Regions from separate parts of the Homo sapiens genome. Here regions 2, 3 and 4 are each linked to region 1. Evidence: fine-mapped expression QTL. A gene starts in region 1. Each other region holds a variant in brackets. All regions are shown on one strand. Distances are from middle to middle.

The links. PIP is the estimated chance that this variant, and not a neighbour inherited with it, causes the effect.
Region 2: its variant is fine-mapped to the expression of CDC123 in whole blood (TOPMed, PIP above 0.99).
Region 3: its variant is fine-mapped to the expression of CDC123 in testis (GTEx, PIP 0.94).
Region 4: its variant is fine-mapped to the expression of CDC123 in whole blood (TOPMed, PIP above 0.99).

The regions. Positions count from the first base shown.
Region 1 is chr10:12,193,757-12,198,756 of GRCh38, reverse strand. It overlaps CDC123 (cell division cycle 123), which reads right to left and starts at 2,569. Exons shown (of 13, transcript NM_006023.3): 1 at 2,438-2,569; 2 at 1-52. The coding sequence starts at 2,511. It overlaps NUDT5 (nudix hydrolase 5), which reads left to right and starts at 2,866. Exons shown (of 10, transcript NM_014142.4): 1 at 2,866-2,987. RefSeq lists an enhancer at 2,553-2,822.
Region 2 is chr10:12,123,484-12,128,483 of GRCh38, reverse strand. No RefSeq gene overlaps it. Among named protein-coding and RNA genes, the nearest start is that of SEC61A2, 3.7 kb to the left of the region's middle. The variant C/T (reference allele first, on the strand shown) is at 3,004.
Region 3 is chr10:12,143,751-12,148,750 of GRCh38, reverse strand. All of the region lies in intron 4 of SEC61A2 (SEC61 translocon subunit alpha 2), which reads right to left. LOC124902579 (small nucleolar RNA U13) reads right to left here and starts at 3,088; the gene lies at 2,985-3,088. The variant G/A (reference allele first, on the strand shown) is at 2,280.
Region 4 is chr10:12,246,247-12,251,467 of GRCh38, reverse strand. It overlaps CDC123 (cell division cycle 123), which reads right to left. Exons shown (of 13, transcript NM_006023.3): 11 at 5,191-5,221; 12 at 1,750-1,887; 13 at 879-1,157. The coding sequence ends at 1,131. Among named protein-coding and RNA genes, the nearest start is that of CDC123, 53 kb to the right of the region's middle. The variant G/A (reference allele first, on the strand shown) is at 2,865.

The DNA.
Region 1 (5,000 bases):
TCCATCATCGAGTAAATAATCCTTCACATTCTGAGGAAGTGGAAGAATGACACTAAAAAAAAAACACCAAAAAAGGCATCATTTTAAAAGACCAACTATAAGCAGAGAGAAAAATCTCTACACTTGATTAATTTTGGAATTGTCTTTCTTTTAATATAAAGTAGAAAATGTTAATGATGTACATTTGGTAGCAGTAGACAAGAAATCAGAATAATAAGATTACTGCGGTTCATCTTATTGCCACAATGGTCTTTGTAGTAAACAAAAACCAGCCAAATCCAAACCACCAGATGGAAATCACAGTATGAAAGCAACAAGCTCAAAAGGATTCTGAGTGAGCACAACATTTATGTGTCTTTAAGAAATCAGAGACCAGCAGATATTTGCTGCAACACAGGAAATGCAGCAAACCCAACTAGAAGATGACTAGCATTTGGTCACCTTCTAAAGATAGAGGGCAGAAGTAGAGTCAAGATCTGGAAACCATTCTTGGGTTGGCAGTGAGCACCTACCGCTAAGAATTCATGATACTTTTGGATGTGTCTTGCTGGCTTTCTATTCAACTGATCACCAGAGATATAAAGCTGCTTAAACTAGGCATGCTTTAGCTTAATTTGTTTCAGGTAATCATAATTAAGGATGGCAAAGCCATACCTGAAGTCTCTTAAAAACTTATGGGATAATTTGTTTTTTACCTTGAAATAATAAATTATCAAAAAGCCCTACCACAGATCCCTAAGAGTGCTGGTATTATTTTGATTTTGAGGCATATACATCTTCAAAAAGTGGAAAAGATTACAGCCTGCTTTCCCGAAGTTAACAGAACATCAATGACTTATAACATGTCTCATTTATTTATGGAAGAAGTTTTTTTTGGCACATTACAAATGGTTTTTTTGCACAAAAAAGAGTATTCATGGGCTACTTCGGTTTTAAAAATAAGTATTTTTATTTATTTTTAAATAAATAAAAGATCACTGCCACTGCACTCCAGCTTGGGCGACAGAGCAAAAACTTCGGTTTTAAAAATAAATATTTGATTTATCAAAGGTACAATTTCACATTCAAAAATCTAGTTCTGGCCGGGCGCGGTGGCTCACACCTGTAATCCCAGCACTTTGGGAGGCCGAGGCGGGCGGATCACGAGGTCAGGCAATCGAGACCATCCTGGCTAACACGGTGAAAACCCCGCCTCTACTAAAAATACAAAAAATTAGCCGGGGGTGGTGGCGGGCGCCTGTAGTCCCAGCTACTCAGGAAGCTGAGGCAGGAGAATGGCGTGAACTCGGGAAGGGAAGCTTGCAGTGAGCCAAGATCGCTGCCACTGCACTCCAGCTTGGGCGACAGAACAAAACTCTGTCTCAAAAAAAAAAAATCTAGTTCTTCAGGCTTTTAATTTCTTCTAACAAATCTTATTACGTTTGAAAATCTACTAAATTTTAAACAATTTCAAGCGAAACTTTGCAACTTAAAAGTCTCTTTAAAATTTTAAATTCTATTCATAAACCACTCAATTTTCTTTCTTAATATGTCTATTTGCTGATTACAAATAAGCCTTCCTAAGTATTTTACTCTTACAAAGCTAACAAGCGAAATTGTTAAGTACAATGAATCTAAGGTTCTACCACACATTCCAATACTATTTAAGAACTTGAAACTTTTCTTATACATTTTAACCATTCTAAGCCAGTTACACATTTTCAAGTACATATCCGATCTTTATTGAATGAAACCATCATATAATGAATCAGCAATTACTGAAATGTTGGCTCAGAAAATCAGTTAAGTGCAAAGCCCAGATTTTCTATCAACGCCTTTAAAAAAACTGAGAGATGAAATTGTATATATTAATACTTGCCGCCTACCTGATGTTTTTAAGTATATATACACTGTGGAATAAATTTAGCTAACAAATGCATTGCCTAACATAGTTATTTTTGTGGTGAGAACACTAACATCCACTCTCCGTTTTTCAAGAATACGTATATCGTCATTAACTATAGCCTCCATGCTGTACGACATATCTGTGAACTTGTTCTCGTATCTAACTGTAATTACGTATCCTTTCACCTTCCCAATCTCCATCCTCTGGGGTGATGGCGAAAAGCAATTAATTCTCCGAGTGCACTTAGGCAGTGATCACCTTGCGCCTGGGGCCATTCTAAAAGTAGTGGTGGTGAACTCCCAAGCCTAAACTAGGTTAATCCACTATTCCTCCCGCCTCCGACCCTCACTGAAAACCACAACTGACCCTCCTAGCCAGCACACTCGCTGGCTCGCAACAGGACGCAGACAATTGCTGATGTACTTCCCTCTCGACACACTCCCTCCCATGCAGTCGCTAGAAGGCCTGCATTTTTTTGGATAGCAGTAAGATTCGCTCAGAAGTCGCAGTTCCCTTTTGCCGGTCGACCGGGCGAACCCCCTCCCATCTCACCTCTTGATGGTAACGCCTCGGAAGAACGGGTACCACGCGGAGAACTGGCAGTGAAGCACATGCTCCTTCTTCATCCTCCAGCTGCCGCCGCTGCTGCCTTTCCCTCTCCTGCCTGCACCCTCCCGGAACTCTGGGCGCCGGCCCCGGAAGTGCCCGCCGAGCTATTTTGGTTCAAGGACTCTTCCGGTCCCTAAAGCAAGAAGGAAGACCGAGAAAAGGAAGCGGAGGAGAATCCCGGGGCATACGCTTGACACACACGCATACAAAAAGAGCTTTAGTCTCGAAAGAGGAATTACCGAAGTGTCGAGAGAGGAATTTTAAGAAGTTTACAACTCCGTCTTCGCCCTAAACGCACGCTGACCCGGAAAGTAATCTCCTGAAGCTAGGTCAAAGGCGGGGGTTCTACGGATGCCGGAAGGAGGGTGCGCGCCCATCCTTTTAGCACCGCGAGAGGCGCCGGTGTTTCGAGCCGTGGCACCGGCATCGGCTGACACTGCTGCCTCCAGCTAGTTATTTCGTCCTCTTCCGTTCTTCACCCCTACACCTTGGAGTAAGTAACCGGGGCAAGCCAGTCACAGCACAAAACCTCTTTGGGGAGGAGAAGAAGAAGGGGAAAGGGACCACATCTGCATGGTGCGTGCAGCCGCGCGGTGTCTCCCAGGCTGCGGCTGGGCACGCGTCCAGGCGCCCAAGAGGGAAACTGGGGATTGGAGGGAAATTGTGGATTGGAGAGGAAGAGCCTGGGCTACTCCGAGTAAAGAAAGCGGGGAACACCACAGCTAAGTGTTAGTTCCAGTGTAAAGATTGCAGCATCTGCAGAGGAGTAGAATGCTTGGTAGAGGGAATACCGCCTGTACGATCCTGGAGGGTTCGACTTTGGGAGGTAAAAGGCGAGAGGTAAATGTGAGAAAGCAGAGGAAAGAGGAGTCTCCTTGGAGCGCTGAATTCGTTTAGTCTGGCCTCGCAAAAGTTGTCAACCTGGAAAAAACGCAGATTTTTATCAGTATTCCTGCGATGATCGAATCATAAGACTGGAAGAATTCGAATCGAACTTGTACTATCGTTTTTTCCTTTGCTTCACTCCTGTCACCCAGCAAAGTTCAGTTTTGTTTGTTTCGTTAAAAGAATGAGAAGTAACTAGCTGCTTTTATTTATTTATTTGAGACGGAGTCTCACTCTGTGCCCAGATTGGAGTGCAGTGGCGCAATCTTGGCTCACTGCAACCTCCGCCTCCTGGGTTTAAGTGATTCTCCTGCCTTAGCTTCTCGAGTAGCTGAGAGCGCGCGCGCGCCACTACGCCGGCTAATTTTTGTGTTTTTAGTAGAGACGGCGTTTCACCATATTTGCCAGGCTGGTCTCGAACTCCTAACCTTAGGTGATCTGCCCGCCTCAGCCTCCCAAAGTGCTGGGTTTACAAGGCGTGAGCCACGGCCCCGGGCCTACCAACCAGCCGCTTTTAACCCCTAGTCGTGTCGCTTACCACACGAGCTTTAGGCTTGCGCGAGGCATCTGCGTCTAAAAGTATCTCCTTAAATGTACATTCTTCCTGGTTCACCTAAGTAGTTTTAAATTAGAAACAGCCCCACCGACTGCAGGCCTCTTCAGAAGGGTGTTCCTTAGAATAATAAACAATTATCTGCGTATTTTGAGTTAGAAACTCTTCCCCCCAGGAATATATACATTGTTTTGGGTTGTGTTTTGTTTTTCTCAAAAATGTTACTGGCTAAGTGGCTAGTTGGAAGCAGTGCTTTAAAGAATACATTTTCAAAGCAGAGGTAAATAGATTATAATGTTGCAGAGTATGTTGGTGGGGATGGACAGTCATGATTCATCATTTATGCCTTGATCCGGAACTATGCAGTCCTTTCTGATTTGAGGGAAAGAAGCAATATTGTATATATGTCTGGAGGGTGGTGCCAGAAAGACTTAATGGCAGACAGGAGCAGTCGCTCAAATAATTGTTTTGATTTGACTTAGAAAGTAAAAAATTGCGCGGAAGGAGATGTTAGCATCGATGGGGGATTTATTTAGGTCAGATGTTTTCTAATGAAGATAGGAATGAATGTACGGAAGAGAATAGATCCCGGGAACATAGCCCTTCTGCGAGGAGCAGTACTTTAACAGCCCAAGAAACATTTGAGCATAGGCCGGGCGCGGTGCCTCATGCCTGTGATCCCAGCACTCTGGGAGGCCGAGGCGGGCGCATCACCTGAGGTCAGGAGTTTGACCAGCCTGTCCAACATGGCGAAACCCCGTCCCTACTAAAATATCAAAAATTAGCCGGGCGTGTTGGCGCATGCCTGTAGTCCCAGCTACTCGGGAGGCTGAGGCAGGAGAATCGCTTGAATCCGGGAGGCGGAGGTTGCGATGAGCCGAGATCGCGCCACTGCACTCCAGCCTGGCAACAGAGCGAGACTCTTTTTTTTCCGTCTCGGGAAAAAAAAAAAAAAGAGTGTAGAGATTAAGGCAGTTGCAAAGCTTTAATATAGAATTGCAGTTGTGTGTAGAAAAGCAGCTAAGTTTGTAAGCTTAAATATATAGATACTACAGGGAAGGAATTTTT
Region 2 (5,000 bases), 70 kb after region 1:
AGCAATCCAGCTGTCTCAGCCTCCCCAAGTGCTGGGATTACAGGCATGGGCCACCAAAACCGGCCTCAATAATCTGTTCTAATGTTCAGATCTATGTTCATGAAATAAATTATATATTTCAGGGGGGCGTGCAATTTAGGTCCAGCTTGCATGAGTCTCTGCTGTACTTGAGGTCAGCTGGGACAGCCCCAGGGCTGGGGACTGGAATGATCAGGTGGCTCCCTCATTCCCCAGTCTGGCATTGGGTGCTGGTGTCAGCTCCAGCACCTCCAGATGGCTTCTCCAAGCGGCCTGGGCTTCCTCACAGCGTGGCAGCTGGGGTCCAAGGGATGTCCTCAGAACTGAACCAGCATCTTTTACTGCATTGTGTCTGTAGGGGCAGCCACAAGTCCTAGGGACACCACCTCTAGGGGAGATTGTGGCAAGATTCTGGAAGAACATGTGGGATTCAAAATACCGCTGTGGGAATTTTTGGAAAATCCAATCTGCCACAGTAATAATCTCCCATCCTGTTAATTCATCCTTACCTCACTCTACTTTGTATTAGTCATTTTTATACTTGCCTAATCTCCCCTGATATGCAGTAAACTTCTAGATAGAGTGGTCGTTCTTACTTTTTCTACTATGTACAATAGCCTACAAAATGATTGACTTAAGTGCAGTTTTGACACTCAATTATGAGCTAATTTCATGAATGCAATATCCTTTCAATAAAGATGCACTAAATTCCAGCCTGGGCAACACAGTGAGACCACGTCTCTATGAAAGGTAAAAAAAACAAAAATCAGCCGGGCATGGTGGTTTGCGCCTGTTTTCCCAGCTTTTCAGGAGGCCTCAGGAGGCTGGCTTGAGCCCTGGAGGTAGACGTTGCAGTGAGCTCAGATCGCACCACTGTACTCCAGCAAGCGGCGGGGGGTGGGGGGGGGCAGGGGGAAGATGCACTAAATTGAAAATATCACAGAAGGTGAAGAGTATCCTGTGCCTCTTTTTACTGCCTATTTCTGGGATAGTTCCATGGTTCAAGAGCCTGGGAATGAGCTTTGACACTCTGGATAAACTTTGTGAATTACCCTTCCACCATTCTTTTTTTTCTCTTTGAGACAGAGTCTCGCTCTGTCACTGGGCTGGAGTGCAGTGGCCAATCTCAACTCACTGCAACCTCCACCTCCCAGGTTCCAGTGATTCTCATGCCTCAGCCTCCTGAGCAGCTCAGATTACAGGCACATGCCACCCTGCCTGGCTAAGTTTGTATTTTTAGTAGAGACGGGGTTTCACCATGTTGGCCAGGCTGGTCTTGAACTGCTGACCTCAAGTGATCTGCCTGCCTTAGCCTCCCAAAGTGCTGGGATTACACATGAGCCACTGCTCCTGGCCCCTTCCACCATTCTTTCTACCACTACATGCCATGCCACCTAGGGCTTTTCCTTGTTTAACTGCAATGTGCCACCTAATCTACATCCATCCAGACTCTCAAGTCTACCTCCTTGATCTTTCATTGTTTTAGCACATCCAACAAGAAAATGTCTCTATGTATTAAATGCTTTGTCTTCTCAAATAGATTGTTAGCCCATTGAGGACAGTGGGCAACCCATTTTATCTTTTACTTCTGTGTATTTCTAAGGTCCATAAAAATGTAATATAGGGACTATATGTCCAATAAAGTATTTATTGATGAAATACCATTTTACTCTTAAAAGGTCATTTCTGGTGTTCAGTTCAATTTTAGCTGGATCCCCATATGAGTCAAAGAAAACAGGGACACGACACTAAAGTAATATAAATACTTTTTTTTTTTCTTGAGACAGGGTCTCACTCTGTCACCCAGGCTGAAGTGAAGTGGCACTGTATCGGCTCATTGCAACCTATGCCTCCCCAGTTCAAGCACTCTGCCTTCCTTATCCTCCCAAAGAGCTGGGATTACAGGCATGGGCCACTGTGCGCCCTGTTTAATTTTTTATGTATTATTATTTTTCACAGTATGGATCTCACTCTGTCACCCAAGCTGGAGTGCAGTGGTGAGATCATAGCTCACTGCAGCCTCAAAGTCCTTGGCGCAAAGGATCTTCTCACCTAAGCCTCTGGAGTTGCTGGGACTACAGGTACACGCCACTGGTCTGACTTAAATAATTTTTAAAAATTAGACTGGGTGTGGTGGCTCATGCCTGTAATCCCAGCACTTTGGGAGGACAAGGCGGGAAAATCATTTAAGGCCAGGAGTTTGTGACCAGCCTGGGCAATATAGCAAGACGTCGTCTCTACAAGAAAAAAAATTTGTTTAATTAGCAGGGCATAGTGGCAGGCACGTTACTTCTAGCTACTTGGGAGGCTGAGATGGGACGATCACTTGAGCCCAGGAATTCGCGGCTGCAGTGAGCCGTAATCGTGCCAGTGCACTCCAGCCTGGGGGACAGAGTGAGACTCCGTCTCTAAATAAATAAATAAATAAATAAAATTGCAATTAGCAGTGAGGAAAGGAGTCTGCTTTAGATTGTGCTTTATCAGATTTAAATAAAATGACAATGAATTACTATTTCTATAGAGTAAGAGCTTTTGGGGTTTTTTAATTGATGAATGCTAGATGTACATACTTTCAAGGTGCATGTGATAATTTAATACATTCATATAATTTGTAAATATCAAATTGGTGTATTTGGGATATCCATCACCTTAAATATTTGTCTTTTCTTTATGATAGAACCATTTGAATTCTCCTCTAGCTATTTCACAATGTATAGTAGATATTGTAAACTATGGTCACCTACTGATTAAACTATGGTCACCTACCGATCCATCTAACAGTAGGTCTTATTTCTTCTATCCAACCATATATTTGTACCCATTAATCTACTTCTTTTCATCACCCCACCCCTTCCCCTCCCGACCTCTGATACCACCGATCTACTCTCTATCTTCATGAGATCCACTTTTTTTTTTTTTTTTTTGAGATGGAGTCTTGCTCTTGTCACCTTGGCTGGAGTGAAATGGCATGATCTCAGCTCACTG[C/T]AACCTCTGCCTCCTGGGTTCAAGCAATTCTCCTGCCTCAGCCTCCCCAGTAGCTGGGATTTACAGGCATCCGCTACCACGCCCGGCTAATTTTTTGTATTTTTAGTAGAGACAGGGTTTCACCCTCTTGGCCAGGCTGGTCTCAAACTCCTGAGCTCAGGTGATCCACCCGCCTTGGCCTCCCAAGGGGCTGGGATTACAGGCATGAGCTACCGCGCCTGGCCAAAATCCACTTTTTAAGCTCCCATGTGAGTGAGAATATCCAAGTTTTGTCTTTCTGTGCTTGACTTACTTCACGTAACATGATGACTTCCAGTTCCATCCATGTTGCTACAAATGACAAGATTTTATTTTTTTTAAATGGCTGAATAATATTCCATGGTGTATATGTAACTTATTTTCTTTAATATCCAAATACATATAAGAAAAATGTAGGTGAAGCTTTTGGAACCTAAAGACTCAACAGTCTTGATCCTTAATCTGTGACTTCCTTCCAGTGTAATCTTTTTTTTTTTTTTTTTGGGCGGGGTAACCCTTTCATTTCTTCAATTTTGTAAAAGGGCCAGGTGTGGTGGCTCACGCCTGTAATCTCAGCACTTTAAGAGGCCAAAGCGGCCTAACGCTGACACAGAATCACTTGAACTAGAAAGGCGGAGGTTGCAGTGAGCCAGGATCGCACCACTGCCCTCCAGCCTGGGCCACAGAGCGAGATTTGGTCTCAAAAGAAAAAAAGAAAACCTTAGTAACTTTATACTTGTATCTTATTTATATCTATTATTTATATCTATCTATGCCATTTTAATGTTCAATGAGGACTAAACCTTAAATTGGGTATTCAAGAAGTAGAAATAGTAGCAACCATGGAAAAATGTTAGTTTTGTCTGAAATGACAAATTATTCTTAGTAAAATAAAAAATTTTTTAGTGAGAATAATAACTATTTTGCTTAGCTTTTCTGTGTCTTGCATACACATGCTATTTGGGAAAAATACTATGAAGCTTAGACATCTTTAGACTGACTATATTACCTTTGAAATTTTATTATTTTTTAATAATTCCTTGGTTGACAATAAAAATACTATCCCTTTTACACTTTTTTTTTTTTTTTTTGAGATGGAGTCTTGCTCTGTTGCCCATGCTGGAGTAGTTCAAGTGATTTCCTGCCTCAGCCTCTCAAGTAGCTGGGACTACAAGCATGCGCAACAACGCCTGGCTGATCTTTGTATTTTTTAGTAGAAACAGGCTTTCACCAGGTTGGCCACACTGGTCTCAAACTCCTGACCTCAGGTGATCTGCCCACCTTAGCCTCCCAAAGTGCCGGGATTACAAGCATGAGCCACCACGCCTGGCCTACTAAATTTTTAAGGGAAAAAAAGTAATGAGTATTTGATTTGGAATTCCTCAAATGGTCCCTCCCTGCAAGGGAATGTAAAATGCTGATCCATGTTGCAGTAGTGATTGAGAGTAGAAAGGTTAAGCCAACAGAAGACACATTTCATGACTCGAGTTAGAGAAGACATAAAAAGAAACCATGAACAGACTGTGAGGTGTAAAATTAGAAATTTGGAGAGATCCACCAGTCACAGTGGCTCACGCCTGTAAACCCAGCACTTTGGGAGGCCAAGGTGGGCGGATCATGAGGTCAGGAGATCAAGGCCATCCTAGCTAACATGGTGAAACGCCATCTCTGCTAAAAATACAAAAAACTGGCTGTGGCACGTACCTGTAGTCCCAGCTACTCGGGAGGCTGAGGCAGGAAAATCTTTTGAACCCAGGAGGTGGAGGTTGCAGTGAGCTGAGATCGCACCACTCCAGCCTGGGCGACAAAGTGAGACTCTGTCTCAAAAGAAATTCGGAGAGATTTAAAGTAACCTTTTATTTTTTGAGACAGAGTCCCGCTCTGTCACCCAGGCTGGAGTACAGTGGTGCAATCTCGGCTCACTGCAACCTCCGCCTCCCGAGATCAAGTGATTCTCCTGCCTCAGCCTCCCAAGTAGC
Region 3 (5,000 bases), 50 kb after region 1:
GGAGATTGAGACCATCCTGGCCGTCTCTACTGAAAATACAAAAATTGGCCAGGTGTGGTGGCGTGCGCCTGTAGTCCCAGCTACTCGGGAGGCTGAGGCAGGAGAATCCCTTGAACCGAGGAGTTGGAGGTTGCAGTGAACCAAGATCGCACCACTGCATTCCAACCTGGCGAAAGAGTGAGACTCCATCTCAAAGAAAAAAAAAAAGCCGGGTGTGGTGGCTCATACCTGTAATCCCAGCACTTTGGGAGGCCAAGGCGGGCAGATCACCTAAGGTCAGGAGTTCGAGACCAGCCTGACCAACATGGAAAAACCCCATTTCTAATAAAAATACAAAAGTATCCGGGCATGATGGTGCATGCCTGTAATCCCAGCTACTTGGGAGGCTGAGGCAGGTGAATTGCTTGAACCCGGGAGGTGGAGGTTGCGGTGAGCCAAGATCCCGCCATTGCACTCCAGCCTGGGCAACAAGAGCGAAATTCTGTCTTAAAAAAAAAAAAAAAAAAAAAAATGGCCGGGCATGGTGGCTCACGCCTGTAATCCCAGCACTTTGGGAGGACGAGGTGGGAGGATCATGAGGTCAGGAGTTTGAGACCAGCCTGGCCAATATGGTGAAACCCCGTCTCTACTAAAAATACAAAAATTAGCTGGGCATGGTGGTGGGCGCCTGTAGTCCCAGCTACTCGGGAAGCTGAGGCAGAAGACTCACTTGAACCTGGGAGGCAGAGGTTGCAGTGAGCCGAGATCGTGCCACTGCACTTACTTCAGCCTGGGTGACAGAGCGAGACTCTGTCTCAAAAAAAAAAAAAAAGATATTAGATAGATTTCTTAAGTTAGATCACCAAAATTTATTATTGCAAATAGCTCTAGTCCAGAAATAGACTTAATCAAGCTTTAATGAATATTTGATATAAGAAATATGGCATTTCAAATCAGTAGAGAAAAAAATGGACCTTGGCAAAAAAATTGGCCATTTTTAGGAAATTAAACCTAGATTCCTTACCTCATGCCTCATGCCTCACATCAAAACAAATGCTACATGTATAGAAATTTTTTTTTTTTTTTTTTTAGACAGAGTCTCACTGTCACCCAGGCTGGAGTACAATGGCACGATCTTGGCTCACTGCAACCTCCACCTCCTGGATTCAAGCGATTCTCCTGCCTCAGCCTCCCGAGTACCTGAGATTACTGGCGTAAGCCACCATGCCCAGCTAATTTCTGTATTTTTGGTAGAGATGGGGTTTCACTACATTGGCCAGTCAGGTCTCAAATTCCTGACCTCAAGTAATCTGCCCTCCTCGGCCTCCCAAAGTGCAGGGATTACAGGCATGAGCCACTGTGCCCAGCCTCCATGTATAGAAAATTTAAACATAAAGGATAAATGACAAAAATACTAGAAGGAAATATGGGTGAGTAGCTTATCATCTTGGGCAAGAAAGTCTTTCTAAGCATGGCAAAAAATCTAGAAGCCACAAAGGAAAAGATGGAAGATATGATTAGATACAACTACAAAACTTCCACGTGGCAAAAGGCAGCATAATGGTTAAAATAAAACTATTAAGGCAGACATGGTGGCTCACGCCTGTCATCCCAACACTTTAGGAAGCTGAGGCAGGCAGATCACTTGAGGCCAGGAGTTTGAGAGCAGCCTAGGCAACAAAGTGAGATGCTGTCTCTACAAAAAATTAAAATACTAGTCAGACATGGTGGTGCCCGGTTGTGGTCCCAGCTACATGGGAGGCTAAGGCAGGAGTATCACTTGGCCCAAGAGGTCAAGGCTGCAGTGAGCTGTTTGCACCACTGCACTCCAGCCTGGGCAACAGAGCAAGAGCCTGTCCCAAAAGAATAAAAAAAAATTAAACACAAATGACAAAAAGTTCTTATCTCTCATGTGCAAAGAGCTCTTACAAATCAATTAAAAAGTGAACAAACTGGCTGGGCGCGGTGGCTCACACCTGTAATCCCAGCACTTTGGGAGGCTGAGGCGGGCGGATCACAAGGTCAGGAGATCAAGACCATCCTGGCTAACATGGTGAAACCCCACCTGTACTAAAAAATACAAAAAATTAGCAGGGCGTGGTGGCGGGCACCTGTAGTCCCAGCTACTCAGGAGGCTGAGGCAGGAGAATGGTGTGAACCCGGGAGGCGGAGCTTGCAGTGAGCTGACATCGCGCCACTGCACTCCAGCCTGGGTGACAGAGCGAGACTCCGTCTCAAAAAAAATAAAACAAAAAAAAAAGGAAAAAAACAATTTAAAAAGGAAACAGCAGATACATGAT[G/A]TGTCTGCTCCTGCTGAAGCTTTCTCAGGAAAATGCAGCACAGGAGTAGGCCCCCAGCATCCAAACCTGTACTGTGCAACCCTGGAACTCTAACTGAAGCTGATCCTGCCTGGTGAGAACCCTGGGCATCTGGAATTTTAAACAAATAATCTGGGGCCAGGCACAGTGACTCAAACCTGTAATCCCAGCACTTTGGGAGGCCAAGGTGGGTGGATCACCTGAGGTCAGGAATTCACCAGCCTGGCCAATATGGTGAAACCCCATCTCTACTAAAAATAAAAAAATTAGTGGCGCATGGTGGCTTGTGCCTGTAATCCCAGCTATTCAGGAGGCTGAGGCAGGAAAATCGCTTGAACCTGAGAAGTGGAGGTTGCAGTGAGCCAAGATCGCACCATTGCACTCCAGCCTGGGCAACAAGAGCGAAATTTGGTTTAAAAAAATAAAATAAAATAAAATAAATCTGGGAGTGTGGAGCTGAATCGCACAGAGAATGGAAAATGTTCACCAATCCCTGCTGCTGAGGCCTAAGGGCTGGCCTTGCTCCCCTTCTTCCTGGGGCTTAGCTGTTCATCTCCACTGTAGATTCCAAAAAATAACCAGTATCCTTCCAGCAAGTATCATGTTTCTGTTTAAGCTAGTCAGTGATTTCCTATTCCTTAATTTTTCTCCTTTATTTAAAACAATGTTTTTTCTTTTTTCTTTTCATGTCAGATGGGTAATGTTCCAACATCCTAACAAGGCTGGAGAGAGGCACATCTCACACACGAGCGTGAAGATCCAATCATCACATCTACGGACTACGAAAGCATCTAGTTTCCTATTACTTACAACAAAAGGAATCTAACACACTAATAAAACTCCACTTATAGAAGAAATACAAATGTTCCATAAAAACAGAAAACAATGTTCAAACTCACCAATCTATAAAGAAATCAAAATTAAATAACTGATGCCAGCTTTTACCTCTCTGACTAACAAAGACTAAAATACTAATAATATCCACTGTTGAAAGAGAAATGGTCATTCTCATATACTGTCGCTGAGAGTGTAAAATCAAACAACTGTTTTGGAAGATAATTTAGCTTTCTCTATCAAAAATTTCAGTATGCCTATCTTGTGACCCAACAGTTGAACTTCTAGAAATTCATTCTATCAAAAAGTTACAGAACGGTGTGATAGCCTTCATTGTAGCATTCTTTATAATGATATAAAATCGGGGGGAAAAAAACGTAATATATGACAAGAAAGGAACCTAGTGGCCTGCAGAAGTTTCCCATCTTCCTTAAAATGTGCTCCATCCAACGGTCTCCAAGCCCTTCATGATCTGACTTAGATACATCTGCAACATCAGGTCCCATCACTCCTCCCTCTTCTTTCATTTCTTCCACCCCACACTCACCTCCTCAATGTTCCTTTTTTTTTTGAGACAGGGTCTGGTTGTGTCGCCCCGGCTAGAGTGCAGTGGCGTGATCTCGGCTCACTGCAATCTCTTCCTCCCAGGCTCAAGCCATCCTCCCACCTCAGCCTCCCAAGTAGCTGGGACCACAGTACACACGACCACACCTGGCTAATTTTTGTGATTTTAGTAGAGATGGGGTCTCACTTTGTTGCCTAGGCTGGTCTGGACTCCTGACCTCAAGTGATCTTCCCGCTTCAGCCTCCCAAAGTGTTGGGATCACAGGCATGAGCCCCTGCGCCTGGCCCCTCCTCAATGATCTTTGAACACACCAAGCACAGGCTCACCTCAGGGCCTTTGCACTGGCTCTTCCCTAGAATATGCCTCCCTCAGGTCTTCATGTGGCCTCCTCTCTCACTTCCTGCAGCTGTCTTCAAAGATCACCTTCCTAGAGCACCTTCCCCACCCCAGGTACCTCCCCAAACAGCAAATATCAACTCCATGACAACTGGGACATTGTCTTGTTCACTGCTCTAATCTCGGCACCTTGCACAAAGGCTGACACACAATATGAACTCAGTAAGTATTTGTTGAATGAATGATCAAATAAATCACAGCGTATCCTTATAATGGAATAATAACATGGCCATTAATAGCTCATGTAAGATATTAAGTAAACAAAGTAGCAGAATAGTATATACAGGACATCTTACTTTTCAGTTATAAGAAGTATATAGATATATGTAAGTGAATGTATGTGCAAAGAAAAGGCCTCAATTGATAGTCACCAATCTACCAAATCCTCCAGAGCTCCCCTCAGAAGTGACACTTTTCTTTTCAGCTTCATATAAATCTGTATATAAATTGCTAGTGCATTTTTAAAATAATAAATCAATATTACCTTTATAACCTAAAAACATCAAAAAAAAATCTGCCATCGATTTAAAGTATGTCCAGGCTGGGTGCAGTGGCTCACACCTGTAATCCCAGCACTTTGAGGGAGGATGGCATGAACCCAGGAGTTCAAGACCAGCCTAGGCAACATGGCAAAACCTCACCTCTACAAAACTACAAAAATTAGCCAGGCATTGTGGCACGCACCAGTAGTCCCAGCTACTCAGGAGGCTGAAGTGGGAGGATCGCCTGAAAAAAGTGTTTCCAAAAAAGAGGCAACCACTGTTCCTAAATGTAAGAAACCTCACGACTGGTTGTACCCCTTGCTACTCTCACTGTCCAGCATCCTCAGCCACAATTTCCCAGATGAACAATGCTGCTTGAGGCTTCAGGCTCAGCTCCAGCTGAGCTCCCCGATTGGCTCACACACT
Region 4 (5,221 bases), 53 kb before region 1:
TGTAATCCTAGCAGTTTGGAAGGCTGACGCAGGAGGATTGCTTAAGGCCAGGAGTTTGAGATCAGTATGGGCAACACAGGGAAACCCCATCTCTACTACTTAAAAAAAAGAAAAAAAGGGCATCTGATGTACTGAATACAAAGATCAAGTACTGAGGACGAAGATTACCACCGGATACCACGTCGGGCAGGTACCCTGGGAAATTGTGATGTCTGTATCCTTCAAATTGCTTGGTGATGTCAACTAATACAGAAAGAGCTCTTAGTAGAATGTCTGGCACATCATAAAGCCTCGGTAAATTAGGCACAATTGATATCATCACTTAAAAATGGTGGCCTTTTAAAAACGCCACATGGCAAAACCCCATCTCTACAAAAAAATACAAAAATCAGCTGGGCGTGGTGGTGTGCACCTGTAGTCCCAGTTACTCAGGAGGCTGAGGCAGGACTGCCTGAGTCCAGGAGATTGAGGCTGCAGTGAGCTGTGATTGTGCCACTGCACCCCAGACTGGGCAACAGAACAAGACTGTCCCTAAACAAAACAGGGCGGGCGTGGTGGCTCACACCTATAATCCCAGCACTTTGGGAGGCCAAGGTGGGCAAATCACTTGAGGATCAGGAGTTCCAGACCAGCCTGGCCAACACGGTGAGACCCTACCTCTACTAAAAATATAAAACTCAGCTGGGTGTGGTGGCATGCACCTGTAATCCCAGCTACTTGGGAGCCTGAGGCAGGAGAATCGCTTGAACCAGGAGGTGGAGGTTGCAGTGAGCCGAGATCGCACCAGTGCACTCCAGCATGGGCGACACAGCGAGACTGTCTCAAAAAATTAAAATTAAAATAAATAAATAAAATAATGACTCGGTAGAAAAGCAACGTATTTCATAGAAAGCATTTTATTATCAGAACAGTATGGTTTTCCTATGTTTAAGATCTATTTATTATGTTATTTTTACAAGTAGCAAAGTCCCTCCGTTTTTTTCCCCAGGTGAATGTACATGAATATAAAAAGTGGCTGATGTCCACACTGCTCGGCCCACCCGCATCAGGGTCGGCAGGAAGTTGCGGCTGATGAGCAGCTCCCGGAGCGGTGGGGCGGGGCCTCCTCTTCTCCAGTTCCAGTACGCTCATCAGTCGTCCTCCTGCTGATTTCTCTTCTGTCAAAGAAAACCAAGGGGATGTTAAAATAGCACATGCTCCTTGGGATATCTGCTCAGCAGGTGTAATTTTCTAGAGGTCTTGGCAAAGGATGTAATTAAAAATTGTCATGGAAAACCATGCTTTAATTCATTAAACTAGTTTATCACTTTGACTCCTGAGCAAATTATCCTCAGGTATTTGAGTATTTTCTTCTCTTTCTTCCATACATACAAAAACTCCTACACAGAAATCCACACAAAAATATAAATATTCACATCCCCTCTTGAGTAAAATCACCACCAGAGCAGAGACCTGCTCTCCTTACAGCCTTCTAACAATATACACACTTTCTTCAAAGTTACAAGTATTTTGAAAAATGTTCAAAAGGCATGTACAGCATAAAAACATTTTCTGTCATTCTAATCAATAAATTATGCCTTCAGCTCCTATTTCATATTTAATTAGAAAATGCTCTAACTCAGTAACTTGGTTCCATTCATAACCATCAAAGTCTAGGTGATACAGGATTCCAATGAAATATTATATAAAAGCCAATTTGAAGGTCTATTTGAAAAGATGGCCAGCATACTAAATGCACATAGACTTTACCAGCTTAAGGAAGTCTATTAGCTTGTGAGCGTCCTCCCCAGTAGAGAGGTCTACAAAGTCCTTGGGTAGCCGGTAACTCAAATAGGGGCTGGGCTGGACTGTCACTTCACTGTTTGTGCAACGGAAAGCTGGGGAATCCTGTACAAAGAAGAAAAAGGAGAAAGAATATCAATCATTTATTTTTAGGCCTATTCTGTGAACTAAAAAAGAACCTAGCAAAACAATTTCAACTCCATGTTTTCCTCTGTACTTGATGAGGAGAAAGGAAGATGCTTAAGTTAAAATGAGCCGGGCACGGTGGCTCACGTCTGTAATTCCAGCTGGAGTGCAGTGGCTCACTGCAGCCTCGACCTCCTGGGCTCAGGTGAACCTCGCACTTCAGCCTCCCAAGTAGCTGGGACTATAGGCATGCGCCACCACGCCCAGCTGAGTTTTTTAAATTTTAGTACAGAAAATATCTCAGTATGTTGCCCAGGCTGGTCTTGAACTCCTGAGCTGAAGCAATCCTCCTGCCTTGGCCTCCCAAAGTGTTAAGATTATAGGCTAGGTGGGCTGTTGCACCCATGCCAAACTATTTTTTTTTTTTTTTTTGAGGCAAAGTCTCGCTCTGTTCTCAGACTGGAGTGCAGGGGCACGATCTCTGTTGCCCAGGTCTCTGTTGCTCACTGCAACCTCTGCCTCCCAGGTTCAAGTGATTCTCCCACCTCAGCTTCCCAAGTAGCTGGGACTACAGGCGCGCGTCACCACGTCCGGCTAATTTTTGTATTTTTAGTAGAGATAGGGATTTCACTATGTTGGCCAGGCTGGTCTCAAACTCCTGACCTCAGGTGATCTGCCTGCCTCGGCCTCCCAAAGTGCTGGGATTACAGGCATGAACCACCATGCCCAGCTGCCAAAACTAATTTTTTTTTTTTAGACGAAGTTTTACTCTTGTTGCCCAGGCTGGATGCAATGGAGCAATCTCAGCTCATCGCAACCTCCACCTCCCAGGTTCAAGCGATTCTCCTGCCTCAGCCTCCCGAGTGGCTGGGATTACAGGCATGCACCACCATGCCTGGCTAATTTTTTTACTTTTAGTAGAGACGGGGTTTCTCCACGTTGATCAGGATGGTCTC[G/A]AACTCCCAACCTCAGGTGATCCACCTGCCTCAGCCTCCCAAAGTACTGGGATTACAGGTGTGAGCCACCGCACCTGGCCTGTTTTTTTTTTGAGACGGAGTCCCGCTCTGTCACCCAGGCTGGAGTGCAATGGCGTGATCTTGGCTCACTGCTGCAACATCCGCCTTCCAGGTTCAAGCAATTCTCCTGCCTCAGCCTCCCAAGTAGCTGGGATTACAGGCATCTGCCACCATGCCCAGCTAATTTTTTGTATTTTTAGTAGAGACGGGGTTTCACCATGTTGGCCAGGCTGGTCTCGAACTCCTGACCTCAGGTGATCCACCAGCCTCGGCCTCCCAAAGTGCTGGGATTACAGGTGTGAGCCACTACGTCTGGCCCAAAACTATTTTTTAAAAGATATAAAATGCTCACAAGAGAACACTGTGAAAATCTCAGGACATGTAATTGAGTATGTAGTATGATTTCATTTATTTACAAAGGTCTATGCATGTGTTTAAATGCACGTTATGTATCAAAATATAAACACTGGTTCTCAAGGTTCTCAAATCATAAGTGATTTTATAATTTTCTTTAAGAATGAGCACGTTACTTTTTTTTTTTTGAGACAGTCTTGCCCTGTCGCCCAGGCTGGAGTGCAGTGGCACAATCTCGGCTCACTGCAAGCTCTGCCTCCCGGATTCATGCCATTCTCCTGCCGCAGCCTCCCAAGTAGCTGGGACTACAGGCGCCCGCCACCACGCCCGGCTAATTTTTTTTTTGTATTTTTAGTAGAGACAGGTTTTCACCGTGTTAGCCAGGATGGTCTCGATACCCTGACTTCCTGATCCGCCCGTCTTGGACATGTTACTTTTATGGGCAGAAAACAGCACTACAAAGTTGTTTCAGGAAAGTCTGGCTGTGAAGCTGGCAGGAAAGGAGAGAGTGGCTGGGTGAAGAAACCGGGTTGAACAATGTTTTGTTTTTTTCGGATGGGAGGTATCTGAGCATGACTAAATCCGGATGGACAGAGTTGATAGAGAGGAAGAATTGCAAAAAGAGCAGAGGGCATCTGGAGAAAGAGGAGGAGGACACAGTGTCCTGAGGGGGAGGTAAGAGAGGAGGACACAGTGTCCTGAGGGGGAGGTGAGAGAGGGGGACACGGTGTCCTGAGGGGGAGGTGAGAGAGGAGGACACAGTGTCCGGAGTGGGAGGTGAGAGAGGAGGACACAGTGTCCAGAGTGGGAGGTGCGAGAAGAGGACAGTGTCCTTAGGGGGAGGTGAGAGAGGAGGACACAGTGTCCTGAGGGGGAGGTGAGAGAGGAGGACACAGTGTCCGGAGTGGGAGGTGAGAGAGGAGGACAGTGTCCTGAGGGGGAGGTGAGAGAGAGGAGGACACAGTGTCCAGAGTGGGAGGTGAGAGAGGAGGACAGTGTCCTGAGGGGGAGGTGAGAGAGGGGGACACGGTGCCCTGAGGGGGAGGTGAGAGAGAGGAGGACACAGTGTCTGGAGTGGGAGGTGAGAGAGGAGGACAGTGTCCTGAGGGGGAGGTGAGAGAGAGGAGGACACAGTGTCCGGAGTGGGCGGTGAGAGAGGAGGACACAGTGTCCAGAGTGGGAGGTGAGAGAGGAGGACAGTGTCCTGAGGGGGAGGTGAGAGAGAGGAGGACACAGTGTCCTGAGGGGGAGGTGAGAGAGGAAGACACAGTGTACTGAGGGGGGAGGTGACAGAGGAGGACACAGTGTCCAGAGTGGGGAGATGACAGAGGGGGACACAAGTGTATGGAGGGGGGAGATTAGACTCAGGAAGGGACGGACAAGCTTGTAGGTGTGATGAGAAATCAACTGAGGGAATTCTCATCAGTGGGTTCCCTTTTCCGGGAAACAGCAAGTTAAATCATCTGCTGAGAGGAAGGAAGGAATGATGGGAGACTGAGAAGCATCAAGGCGTGAGCCAGTCACCGTGGAAATGGAGGAGAAAGCTGACAGGAATCCGCTGGGCTGCACGTGTGTAACTTCTCTGTCGGCCTCAGCAGCTGGGGCTGGGGTCAGAAGGAACAGATGCATGAGCTGATCTGGGACCAAGATTCCTCCAGGTGGGTGTGACAGAAGAAGCTCAGAAAAAGAACTAAAAAAACTGATCAGATGATCCTGACTTCTGTATATAAAGTTAAGTGGGGCCCCCTTCTTTGACCACCACCATGGGCAGGTTAGCTATTAGTAAAGCTGTGTTACACTCTGCGCTTCCCAAGGGTCCTGGCCATTGCCGCCTACCTATGCGTCTGAAGAACAAGCAGTCAGTCAGTAGACTGGAAAGGTTTACATTGTATCTGTCTTAAAAATGTTGTACCTGCTCTTGAGCGTCAACTTCACTAAAATCG